3 separate regions of the Homo sapiens genome follow, and all the other regions are reported to be linked to region 2. Evidence: microRNA targets listed by miRTarBase, many of them from high-throughput screens and not tested one by one. Region 2 holds a microRNA gene; each other region holds the end of a gene's coding sequence.
The links. The annotated mature microRNA hsa-miR-3145-5p reads AACUCCAAACACUCAAAACUCA and lies in region 2 at 1,309-1,330, shown strand. An mRNA with a match to its seed (bases 2 to 7 or 8) in the 3' UTR can be bound and repressed. Matches are read on the target gene's strand: a 7mer-m8 pairs with bases 2 to 8, a 7mer-A1 pairs with bases 2 to 7 and ends in A, and an 8mer does both.

Region 1: miRTarBase lists GALNT1 as a target of hsa-miR-3145-5p. The part of its 3' UTR that is shown has no 7-base or 8-base seed match.
Region 3: the mRNA of TNR is a reported target of hsa-miR-3145-5p. The part of its 3' UTR that is shown has no 7-base or 8-base seed match.

Annotation. Positions count from the first base shown.
Region 1 is chr18:35,709,436-35,713,644 of GRCh38, reverse strand. It overlaps GALNT1 (polypeptide N-acetylgalactosaminyltransferase 1), which reads right to left. Exons shown (of 12, transcript NM_020474.4): 12 at 1,811-4,021. The coding sequence ends at 3,875. LOC105372064 (a long non-coding RNA gene) reads left to right here. Exons shown (of 5, transcript XR_935377.3): 2 at 1-1,659. Among named protein-coding and RNA genes, the nearest start is that of MIR3975, 120 kb to the right of the region's middle.
Region 2 is chr6:138,432,349-138,436,591 of GRCh38, reverse strand. MIR3145 (microRNA 3145) reads left to right here and starts at 1,298; the gene lies at 1,298-1,379. NHSL1 (NHS like 1) reads left to right here. Exons shown (of 8, transcript NM_001144060.2): 6 at 2,912-4,243.
Region 3 is chr1:175,319,845-175,324,087 of GRCh38, forward strand. TNR (tenascin R) reads right to left here. Exons shown (of 23, transcript NM_003285.3): 23 at 1-3,632. The coding sequence ends at 3,513. It overlaps LOC105371623 (a long non-coding RNA gene), which reads left to right. Exons shown (of 4, transcript XR_001738302.2): 2 at 1,138-1,277. Among named protein-coding and RNA genes, the nearest start is that of KIAA0040, 130 kb to the left of the region's middle.

The sequences.
Region 1 (4,209 bases), not on the chromosome of region 2:
GCATCTGGAGAGCTTCTGTGAAGTATGTATTCAACTCACTCATTGTTAAACTGGGTTGCTGTTACAATGGTTTTAAAATGTTCTTTGCTTTCCTTTGGTTCCGTGTATTGTGATTATTTTCTCTTAGGCCGTGGCTTGCCTTTTCACTTTAAAAGTATCTTTTTGATGAGAAGTATCTAATTTTGATGAAATCTGTCAGTTTTTTTGTTTAACCTTCCTGAGATGTCTTCGCCTAAGATATCCTTGTCTACCCCAATGTCATGAAGATAGTCGGTTTCCTTTTACAAGATTTATTGTTTTGCCATTCACATTTAGTTCTATAATCCATTTTGAATAAACTGTGCATGGTATGAAGAAGGCATTATTAACATTGCTTTTTCCCAGACATCCAGTTACTTCAACTCCAACTGAAAAATCTTCCCTTTTTCTATTGAATAGCTTGTTTTTGTTGAAAAGCCAATAACCATATACATGTGGGTCTATTTCTGGACATGTCTATTTCTATTTGTTGTTTATCCTAACTCTAGTACCATACTCTCTTAACTGTTGTAGCTTTAGAGCAAGTCTTGACATTGGGTAGTACAAGTGCTCCAATTTTATTTTTCTTCTTCAAAATTATCTTGGCTACTTAGAATCTGTTGCATTTTCATATATGTATTTGCCAATTTCTACAAGATGGCCTTGTGGGATTTTGATCTCATTGAATCTAGATAACAATTTGTGGGGAACTGACATCTTACCATTATGCAGTCTTTCAATCCATGAGCATAGAATAGCCATTTATTTTGGTGCTCTATAATTCTTCCCAGCACTGTTTTGTAGTTTTCAGAGTAGAGGTCTTGTTGTTAACTTTCTTCCTACTTAGAAGTTTGACTTATTTGATGCTATTACAAATGGCATATTTTAACGTTATATTTTCAAGTGTTTGTTGCTAGGATATAGATACACAACTGAATTTCATATATTTGCCTCATATTCTGCAAAATTATCAGTCCTGGTAGATTATCAAGCAAATGCTTGGCAATCTTCAGGAAATCAGAGAATGGAGAAAATGTCATCTAATTAGAAACAGATCTAATTTTCCAAATGGCTTAAAAAGTGACTCATTCTTTGTATACAACCCCTCACAGTTATGACCTCAGAAACACTACCTTCTAAGTTTCTTTTTTCTTTGAAGAACAGGTAACTATAGAGTTAAATTTGCTCTTGGTATACTTCTTGGAAGATGAGAAGAGCATCAAATCCTTACAAAGAGGAACCTCTGTTTCTCAGCTAAATGTAGAATGGGAGCAATGAGGACATGGCCTGCACGATGTCCTCCATCTGCAGAATGGATGAATATTCCCAATGTTCAATGGCAGCACTATTTCTCAAGAATGCCAATGAAGATAGATATATTAAAATAGACCTTGACTGGGGTGGGGTGAATAGATTTGTGAGATTCAAATTATCCTTAATTGTCACATTTATGAATTCTTCACTGGTTAAATAATAATCCCACTTTTTCATCCTTCATTTTTTCTTTTTTTTTAAGATACATGGTTTCTTCTCTGTTGCCCAGGCTGGAGTGCAGTGGCACCATCATAGCTCACTGCAACCTCAAACTCCTGCCCTCAAGTGGTCCTATCGTCTCACCTTCCCAAAATGCTAAAATTACAGGTATGAGCCAGTACCCAGCCATTGTTTTCTTTTTCATTCTTTTCTTCCCAATTTGAGTTATAATAGAGTGATAAGCATCTGCCTAATTACAAGTAATTATGATAAACAGGGATCCACTCTAACTTCAAATAAAACCAATGTAAGGCACAACTATTCAGGAATATTTTGTATTTTCAAAGTATTTAGGAATTCTTTAATTAGAAAAATAAAGGCAATGGGATTATCTATCAGGTTCTAAAAGTACCCATGAATTAAATCACTTACATCTCCCATTTAAAACAAAACCTTAAATCACATTGCTGTTAAGCTTTCATACAGTAAGAAATAAGACCAAGCTATGCTGGAGTACAAAAACCTGAAATTCTGAGCATGAAAATAATTTATTGATTAGACATCTTGCTTATTCAAGCATTAGGCCTACTGGAGATAGAATTAACACAGCTCATGGAAAAGGAAAAAAATTCCATTCAGCACCTGCTTCCTTTCAAATTTCCTGGGGACATGGTTTATGCATTTTGTACTATAGACTCACCCTAAAGCATCCCCATGTGCTTGATGTTGATTAACTTGAACAGGATATGAGAAACTTTGTGTACACTCAACTTGGCAAATATCATTAGCGATGCGACTTTTGGAAACATTCTTAGGCACAAGAAATAGCACTGCCTGCAGTGAAAGTCCTTGATAATCAAAGAAAAGAATTCCATTAAATATAATTTTACAAATATGAAAGAAAATATATGCATTTTTGCCAACAGACTGCTCTACATATCAGGAAAAATGTCTTAATGAGATTCCTCCTACGAGATTAAAAGGTTACCTTTTAATTGACAACTTTCAATTGACACTCAGGTGATTCTGTGGTATTAAAAAAAATCAGAGAAAAATAAAACTGATTTAGCCTAAATAAGATTTAGGAAAAGAAATGCAAGCCTATTAATATGGAATAATAGCTGCACTTCTTTGGCTAAGTCATTAAAAAATGCCAATTAAACATTTTCAGTCAAATTTTATTTAAAAAAAGCAGCAGATAAACATTACAATTCAATAATCTAATCTAAATATGCATTTGACAATGAAGCATATCTGAGTATGGAGTGAAAAAGGTTTTCCAAAAAACCATCAAATGTATTATCTCCAAATACCCAAATAATAAATCACTTCTGCAGGCCTTTTGTTAAGTGGAATCATAAACAAAGAACTGAAGATTTATTGCTGTGAAAACAAATCTGTGGTACAGTAGCATGAATCTTGGGTATTTCGCATAATCAGTTAGGTCAAGTGAAGAAGTCGAAAATGTGATAAGAAATTTGTGTGTGTGTGCACATGTAAATCTGTAAGCCAGTTGACCCAAGAGCAACTGAAACATCTAATTTGTTCAGCTGAGATCAGACATTGTTAAATTTCCATTTTTTAGAAGGCAATTAAAAATTACAATTCCAACAGCCCACAAACCAAACAAAAAAAACTGTAGAGAGAAATTAAAACTATATTCAAAGAGCCTTTTTTTTTCAGCTCAATTTCAGCACCCCAAGGAAAATAAAAGCATCCATGACTATCACAGATGAAAACAAAATGAATGTCATTGGAATCAGTTATTTTTCCCCACTGAGGTATAAAATCTATATAGAAATTTGATACTATACTATAACAAATTGTACTTCTCATAGTTCTGTTTTAATTTCCTTTAAACCCTGTTTAATATAGTTTTTTTGTTGTTGTAAAAATGTTGTTTTCATGATTCTGAATCTGGTTCCAGTTCTTTTATTTTTATATCAATATTTAATATACTGGCTACCAGTTCTAATCAGGAAAAAAAATCTTGGAAATCTCTTCATTATGACAGCACGTTCAGCAGAAACTACTGATGTGCAAGCAAACCATAAAAGGTACAGTTCTCCAGAAAGCATATTTTGTTGATTTTTTTTCATTGTCTCAGTATTCTTTACCATGATTTTCGGAGAAAGACTCTTTCAATCTTGTAAACATCAGTGTGCACAGTCTCATTACTATGCAGTTTCACGTCCATGGACAGGAAGGCTGGTTCACAGCTAGTGAAAAGCTAGAGAAGTCTAAGTTTTAATGGCTGATAAACCTTACATCCTGCAGAGGAGGAAAGCACTTTTCCTTTTTTGCTACTTAAGAATGTGGCAGAAATGTATGCTGAGGTAGCCCAGTCAATCCTTATTTTTTTCGTTTTTTTGTAAATTTGGTCTCAGAATATTTCTGGCAGGGTGACGTTTCGAAGAAGCCACTGCTGGGACCGACTTCCATTGCAGTCTCTAATGCTGGGCACCTGGCTATCCTCTTCTGTGGCTTTATCCAGGCACTGATTACTGTTCACATGCTGCAGGGTTAATTTCTGAAATAGAAAAAATCTTAACATGAGAGTGGAAGAAAACAAAACACCTCAAGCATCAGTTTTGGTGATTAAGTTCCTCTGCAGAAAAGGTGTTTTTTTTGGTAATATACATTATTTAAAAGACAACGGAGAAAAGGTAGGTAGGTGGATGGATGGAGAAACAGAGAGAGAGAGAGAGAGAGAGAGAA
Region 2 (4,243 bases):
TCTCTAGATAAATTTCTGCAGCTTTTCCGTCAGCATTTGCTGCTTCACTTTTATGTTATATAAATGGCTCCTTTCCTTCAACCTCATGAAACAACCTCTGCTAGCTTCCAGCTCTTCTTCTATAGCTTCCTCACCTCTCTCAGCTTTCACAGAATTGAAGAGAGTTAGGGCCTTGATTAGGCTTTGGCTTAAGGGGAATGTTGTGGCTGGTTTGATTTTCTGTCCAGACCATTAAAACTTTCTCCATATCAGCAATAAAGCTGTTTTTTTATTTGTGTATGTTCTGGAGTAGCACTTTTCATTTCCTTCAAGAACTTTTCCTTTGCAGTCACAGCTCGGTTAACTGTTTGGCACAAGAGGCCTAGCTTTTGGCCTATCTTAGCTTTTGACATGCCTTCCTCACTAAGCTTAATCATTTCTAACTTTTGATTTAAAGTGAGAGACATGCAACTCTTCCTTTCGCTTGAACCCTTAGAGGCTATTGTAGGGTTATTAATTGACCTAATTTCATTATTGTTGTATCTCAGGGAATAGAGAAGCCCAAGAAGAGGGAGAGAAACTGGGAAACAGCTGGTCAGTGGAGCAGTCAGAACACACACAACATATATCAATTATATTTGCTATCTTATGTGGGTGTGATTTGTGGCACCCCCAAAACAATTACAATAGTAATATCAAAGATCACTGGTCACAGATCACCGTAACAGATCTAATAATAATGAAAAAGTTTGAAATATTGCAAGAATTACCAAAACGTGACACACAGACACACAGTAAGCATGTTAGAAAAATGGCATCAATAGACTTGCTCAACACAGGGTTGCCACAAACCTTCGACTTGTAAAAAAAAAAACAAAAACAAAAAAACAAAAAAAAAAACCCCAGTTATCTGCAATGCACAATAAAGCTAAGCACAGTAAAACGACGTATGCATCTATAGCATTCATCTGTTTCCTATCATATTCTGAAACTTTTTATACTGTGAAAATATTGGAGGGTCTGTTTTGGGAATAGAATTTTGGTGGTCCTTGTGATAAGATATATGAGTTTTTTCATATGCTTTTTAAGGTCTTTAGGAAATGTTTTTGTTTTAATAAGAAAGTTATACTTAGCTCTAGAGGGTGATAAAATAGCTGTATTTCTATTTTTTTTTACATGCCTAGAATGGTTTCACATTTAAAACTGCTACCCAAAAGTATCAGGATTTTGTTTATGCTACTTAAAGACAGTTAAAAATCTACCACTAACTCCATGCAAAAACTAGTACAATTTTGAAAGGAAAAAAAATGTATTTGTTTATATGAGTTCAACTCCAAACACTCAAAACTCATTGTTGAATGGAATGAGATATTTTGAGTGTTTGGAATTGAACTCGTATACACTGATACACCGATACCAGTCAACTTCCCATCTTCTAAATTACTAAATGGCAAAATTTTGCACTTCCTCAAAGTGGGTTTTTCTTCTGTCCTGCCCTTTTGCCCATTTCCCTCTCTGTGTGGGACAGCCTCGTGTGTGTGTATGTGTCTGTCTATCTGTCTTCAGTGAGTGAGTACTTGAAAGAGGGTAGAGAGAGGAAATAGATCATCTTCGCTAAAAATACAAGTATAAAAATTCCTCTCCATCATCACAGTGAAGGAGAAGGCTTTATGCTGGGATCCTTCCTTCCAGGGTGCCATCTCCTTTGAGGTTGATACAAGCACAGTGCTGCCATTTCAGTACTACCCTCTGCTATCTGAGTGAGCAAAAGGCATCCTATATCCAGTCCATGCCCTGGTTAGATTATGTGTTGGGAGAGGGAAGCCTTAGAAACCCCATCAGTCCTAGGGTCGCATCCAGGTGTCCACTGACACAGAGGGGTGTGCTTGACTCGCATTGCTCAGCAAAGCCCGTGTTGAGATAGATACTTTTGGGTCCTTGTTGGATGGAGATAACATAGGGAGAACTATAGTTTTACTACTATTTTTAGAGATTCGATTTGTCTTAAGGATTGACTTTTTTTTTTCTCAGTACACTTTGGGTAGGTTCTTGTCTTTGTGATTTTTTTTCTTTTTTCTCATAAGCTCTGTTCTTTCCTGGGTAGCTTGAAATCTAACTGTTTACACTTAAAGTTTACCTCGTCCACGTCCCTCTCTGTTGGCCCTTCCTTGTGTTTCTTTCTTTCTGTCTTTTTTTTTTTTTAACATACTATTCTCTGTTTGGTTGTAAAACTCCAACGAATAAATCATCCTAATTTGAGGAAATGTTCACTGGATCAGTTCCTGCCAGTTTCCCCAACTAGAACACAACAGATTGCTGTTGAATTTTGAATGTCACCAACAGACAGATAATGGCTTCAGATGGATAATGAAATGTTTGGAACACAGATGGGCCTGTAAATCAATTTTCTTTGCCTTAGAATTTCCTTCTGACATAAAGAATTAATGTAATTAACACTGTTTTATACCAGTACCCCTCAAATATGGTATCTCTGTGGCCCTATTGTTCAATTACTACATTCATCTACCTTTGGGAAAGATGTGTCACTGCTTGATAGATGGTCTGCACAGTCACCCAGTGGGCGAAAGGCTACCTTGAAGACTTTACTGAAAGGTGATTATTTCAAAGTAAATCCTCCTCTGAGCCCTTGGCAGCCTTGATCTTGAAGGGATACCCTGAGAATTCCATACGCAGCACTCAAGCCATAGGAGGATTGGAGGTACAAATTAAGAGAAGTACCTGACATTCATGACAATAATTTTCATTTTAGAGCTATCAGTAACTTTTTAAATGTACTTAGATACCTACAGGAGAAAGGAAATTAAATCAAATAGAAAAATTTTTTTAAAATTCTGTCAGAGGGGTGAGGGTACACGTGATGAACTATGGATTTTATTTTCAGGTAACAAGCCTCTTTCTGCTTTATCTCCAGCATCAGGCACTGGCCAAGATGATGCTGATGGCCACTCAGTGTACACCCCTGATCACTACTCTACACTAGGAAGGTTCAATAGCTGTCGGTCTGCTGGGCAGCGCTCAGAAACCAGGGACTCCAGCTGTCAGACGGAGGATGTGAAGGTCGTACCACCTTCCATGAGGAGAATCAGGGCACAGAAGGGGCAAGGCATTGCTGCCCAGATGGGCCACTTCTCAGGTTCCTCTGGCAACATGTCTGTGCTGAGCGATTCTGCAGGGATCGTATTCCCTTCCCGCCTTGACAGTGATGCTGGCTTCCATAGTCTTCCGCGTTCTGGAGCAAGGGCAAACATTCAGTCCCTTGAGCCGAGGCTGGGTGCCCTCGGCCCTGCAGGAGACATGAATGGCACTTTCCTCTACCAGAGAGGTCACCCACAAGCAGATGAAAACTTAGGCCATTTAGGAGGTGCCTCAGGGACTGGAACACTTTTGAGACCCAAATCCCAGGAGTTGAGACACTTCGAGAGTGAAAATATAATGAGCCCAGCGTGTGTGGTTTCTCCTCATGCAACCTACTCCACCAGCATCATCCCAAATGCCACACTGTCTTCCTCTTCCGAGGTCATCGCTATTCCCACTGCTCAGAGTGCGGGACAGCGGGAAAGTAAAAGTTCTGGCTCATCACATGCAAGGATAAAATCCAGAGACCACCTCATCTCCAGGCATGCTGTGAAAGGTGATCCTCAGTCTCCCGGTCGCCACTGGAATGAGGGCCATGCCACCATTCTTTCACAGGACTTAGACCCTCATTCCCCTGGTGAACCCGCACTGTTGTCCCTCTGTGACTCAGCCGTCCCTCTAAATGCTCCAGCAAATAGGGAGAATGGGTCCCAAGCTATGCCGTATAATTGTAGAAACAACCTGGCCTTCCCAGCCCACCCCCAAGATGTGGATGGCAAGAGTGAATCTAGTTATTCAGGGGGCGGAGGGCACAGCAGCTCGGAGCCCTGGGAATACAAATCCTCAGGTAATGGAAGGGCATCCCCCCTGAAGCCGCATTTAGCAACTCCTGGCTATTCCACTCCCACAAGTAACATGAGCAGCTGCAGTTTGGACCAAACGTCCAACAAAGAGGATGCTGGGTCGCTGTATTCTGAGGACCACGATGGCTACTGTGCATCTGTGCACACTGACTCTGGACATGGATCTGGGAATCTGTGCAATAGCAGTGATGGCTTTGGGAACCCCAGGCACAGCGTGATCAATGTTTTTGTTGGAAGAGCTCAGAAAAACCAAGGGGACCGGTCCAATTACCAGGATAAATCCCTATCAAGAAACATCTCTTTGA
Region 3 (4,243 bases), not on the chromosome of region 2:
CCTTCCACCAGTTCACTGTGGTCTCAAGGCCAACAGTTTTCCACAGACTTGTCATTCTTGCCACCTCTTCTACACCTGACCCCTTCACCTTCCAGAAATAACCCTGGTGAATGTGCATCTGATATGTTGGAAATTATCTTTATATGTTGGGGAAATGCAAAAAAGGGAAACTGCCTGGACCTTGGGTCTAGACAGTGAATCTATTGCAGTCATTGGTGGTGGTTTTGGTTTTGGGTATTAGTACATATCCTGATGTGTCTGTAGTTAAACAGCCTCTGAGAAGGGTCTACCTCGATTCCTTTTGAGTCCCTTGAGGGAAACTGGTGTGCATAGGGTGGGTGCTTTGAGAGTATTGCTTACTGGATCTACCTTTGGGAAATGCAGTTGTGCTTGGAGGAGCAGGATAAGCAGGAATCAGCGAGGAAAGTTATGAGCATTGAGTCAAGTTGACCATAGACCTTGGGATGAGAGTGGGGCACAGTGTCTTTTAAACATGGTGAAAACTCATGAGAAAATCACCCTATTAAATAAAAGGAATCTATAAATCCTTTTATAGAGGGTTGAATAAGCTGATCTTTGAAGTCTCTTTCTTGCTTCAAAATAAAGCTATGCAATGCCGCTGGTACTATTTATAAAAATGTTCCATAGTGTAGAATGGTTTCAATAAAAGGAAGATTTTTGTTTCCACTGATGTTTCTTGACTTTCACCTGAATTGACAACACATAATCTTTTTCCATTTCAACTTCCTTGATGAAGTGGGCGTGCTGGCACCACCCAGGTACCTGGTCTCTGTTTTTATGGACAAAAAGAGTTCAGCCTCTCACTCGGCATGATCTTTTCTGCAGTATTTTCGTGTGTGTGTGTGTGTGTGTGTGTGTGTTTTACTTATGACTCCTGAATCAATCTCTCTCTTTTCTTTCCCTCCCTCCCTCCCCTTCCTTCTTTCCTTCCTTCCTTCCTTCCTTCTTTCCTTCTTTCCTCATTAAACAGGGAGTCTAGTGAATTTTCATTACCTAATTGTGCTGTCCCACCATGCCAATTTCTACTTAGGTTTTCAGATCACAGATTAGCATCATTGACCGTCAAAACTGAAAGGGAAATTAGAACTCATTCTAGTCTAATCTCTCATCTGACAGATGAAGAAACTGGCCCAGAGAGGTGAAACAACCCAGCCGATGTCATGTCGTAGCTAAGATGACAGCTGTTGGCCTGTACCTCGGCCCTCAAGTTTCCCATGCAATGTGCTTCCTACTATTCATTGTTGCCCCGTCTCTAGGTAAGTCTTCTGTAATTTACATGCTTGTTGAAAGGATCTGTTTCTGTTTTTTCCTCCTCCCAGTTTGTTGAAGCCCATGGTTAACTGAGAAATGCAAGTGGTGCCTAGGTTTTTCAGGGTTATGCCTGTCACATCCACACTGCCGCAGTGAACAAAGCCTAGAAGCCTGCGGCAAGGGAAGCGCCTCCATTCAATGGTGGCTGGCTGCATCCCCATGAGGTCCGAGGCCTGATGGTCAGCCCAAGGGACTTTTCATCTTGGTTCTCAAAGCTTGGTAAGAGTGAGGATATTTCCATTAGAAAATTGCCGACACTAAGGCTCATCCAGTAACTGGTTGGCAAAGGTACACACTGCTCTGGTCAGACAAACATAGGCACTACAGAAAATGGTGCTGGGCCTTGAGGAATGGGAGAGGAAAGGGAGAAGACAGCTCAGGGAACTGGGCATGGATCTGGGCAGATGTTGCGGGGATGGTTGCTGATATTGGATTTGGAGGAGAAATTGAAAGGTCACGGCTTCTAGAGCATCTAGCTCTCTTGGGCTTAAGATCAAATTGTGCTAGTGAAGACAGTGCATCTCATAAAATGGGAAGTAGGCCCACAGTTATCACCTATTCACCTTTGGATTTCTGGATGTAATTTCCTTTGGCTATTGTCATTTTTCCTTTGCAAGGCAGAATAATAAAAGAAGATGGAAAGGCTTCTCATGATCTCACCTCATTAAGAAGGTCATTCCTGTTTCCCATAGGACCAAAAAAGAAAAAAAAAATCAACCTCTTTCCAGGATTATCAGTCAGGGGTATAGCTCTCTGGGCATATACCTTCTTCTCCTGACTCTTATTAAGCCACCTACACTAAGGAGGGCTTGGGTGAAGATAGATATGAGGCCTTCGGTTTGCAATTCAGAAAAAAAGAATCTGTGACAAATAGGACCAGAAATGGAGAAAACAGGGCTAGGGAAGATCTGTGTTTCCCATGGAAACTATAATCTCTATGGCAGTGCCCTGATTTTGACTTCTTCAGTCCTTTCCTCAATGCTTGACCCAAAAGTGCTAAAAACTACAACCATCTCCCCCTCCTACCTTTGCAGAAAGTGACTGTCTGTCTGACCTGAGGGTGGGGGCAGTGGCTGATGACTCACAGGCACATAGCCACTGTGCCACCCAGGGCCAGGAGCAGGCAATGCCTTGGGAACTAGATTCCAAAATGCTGGTTGGGCTTTTGAGGCTCTGGGGTCTAAGACAGGATGGGATTAGGCAAAAGACTCCATCAGGGCCAGAAAAGAGCCACTGTTCTTGAAAGGTAACAGGACATGTGGCTGGTATAATAAGAGTGTCAGAAGATGAGAATCTTTGGCCCATTATAAAGGACTTGGGGCTGGATGCAGTGGCTGTAGCCTGTAATCCCAGCATTTTGGGAGGCTGAGGTGGGAGGATTGTTCAAGGCCAGGAGTTTGTGACCAGCCTGGACAACACAGTGAGACCCCCATCTCTACAAAAAATAAAAGAAAAATCAGCCAGGTATGGTGGCTCATGCCTGTAGTCCCAGCTACTCAAGAGGCTGAGACGAGAGGATCACTTAAGCTCAGGAAGTCGAGGCTGTAGTGAGCTGAGATTGCACCACTGCACTCCAGACTGAGCAAGAGTGAGATACTGTCAAGAAAGAAAGGAGGGAAGGAGGGAAGGCAGGAAAGAAGGAAGGGAGGAAGGAAGGAAGGAAGGAAAAGAACCTGGGTTGTTGGGATGCGGTGTAGTTGATCTGTTTCCTTTTAAGGGGAATTGTTGGCAAAACTCTCTTGCTGAGGCTCTTTTCTCTGGGCCAGTGTGAGAACCTGGCCATGTCAGGCTGTGACAAAATCACAAATACCTGGAAGGCAGAGGACATCTCAGAAGAAGGGTAGAAAAATGTGTGTGCCTGTCACCATAACAATCTGCACCCCACGACTTGGCTTTGAATTGGCCCTTTAAGAAAACTTCCTACTTCTCCTCCTTGGTGGGAAAGGAGGTGAAGGTTGAGGAGGCCTGGGTAGGAGGGAGAATGGAGACTGAGGGTCAGGCTCCAGGGCAGCAGAAACCAAGAGCAGATGTTAGCCAGCGGATTCCTGCGACATCCCTGCTTCCTTCACATACTCTTAATATGTTGCAAAACACATTGCTATTACCCTCCCCCCTTGTTTCATATTATAAAATACAAACAAATGACAGAAAATATTGGTTGGCTTGCAGCCGCCCACTGCTCAGAACTGTAAGGACTGCCGTTTTCTCCCTGCCATGAGACGGTGGTTGTAGGGGCGCATCTTCATTTCCACAAAGGGGATGGAGAACTCATGGCCTTTCCAATGGTACCAGTTGATGCCCTGGGCGTGAGAAAGATAAGCATGTCAGGTCATCCCCCACCATGGAACGCCCCACTTCAAAAAAGGGGTAATTATGGGAACAGGGAATCCACAATGTGGGGTTAGCTATTTTCAGCTAACATGAAGCTTCAAGGCCGAGTTCCCAATAAAGTGAAAGGGGCAGAGTCTCTTTCTAGCTTTCTCCTTAAATGTGCCGGTGGCCTGGGTCTTTCCAGGGAACATGTTGCAGGTCATTCCTTATTGCCAGCTTTGTTTTTGGCTTCCAGGAGTGGCATGCACCAGTAGATGGTTGTGAAATCCCAACAGGGTGGAAGCATTTGGAAGAGAATAACTGTGTTTGACTGCTCACTCCTAATGGGAGACTTAGGCGGTTTCTACCTAGGGTGACAAACCCTTTTGGTTTGCCTAGAACTGAAGGGCTTCCCTGATGTGGGCTGTTTCAGTGTTAACACTTAGAAAGTCTAGTTGGTCATGGTGGTCTCCCTGTCACCCAGCTTAGCCTATAAACTTGTGGTCTCTGATAGGGAAAGATTGTCCAGTTCACACTGGTATTTTCGATGTCTACCTTCCTGGGACCATTTTTAGGGTAAAGTTGAGTCTGTGAAGCTGTC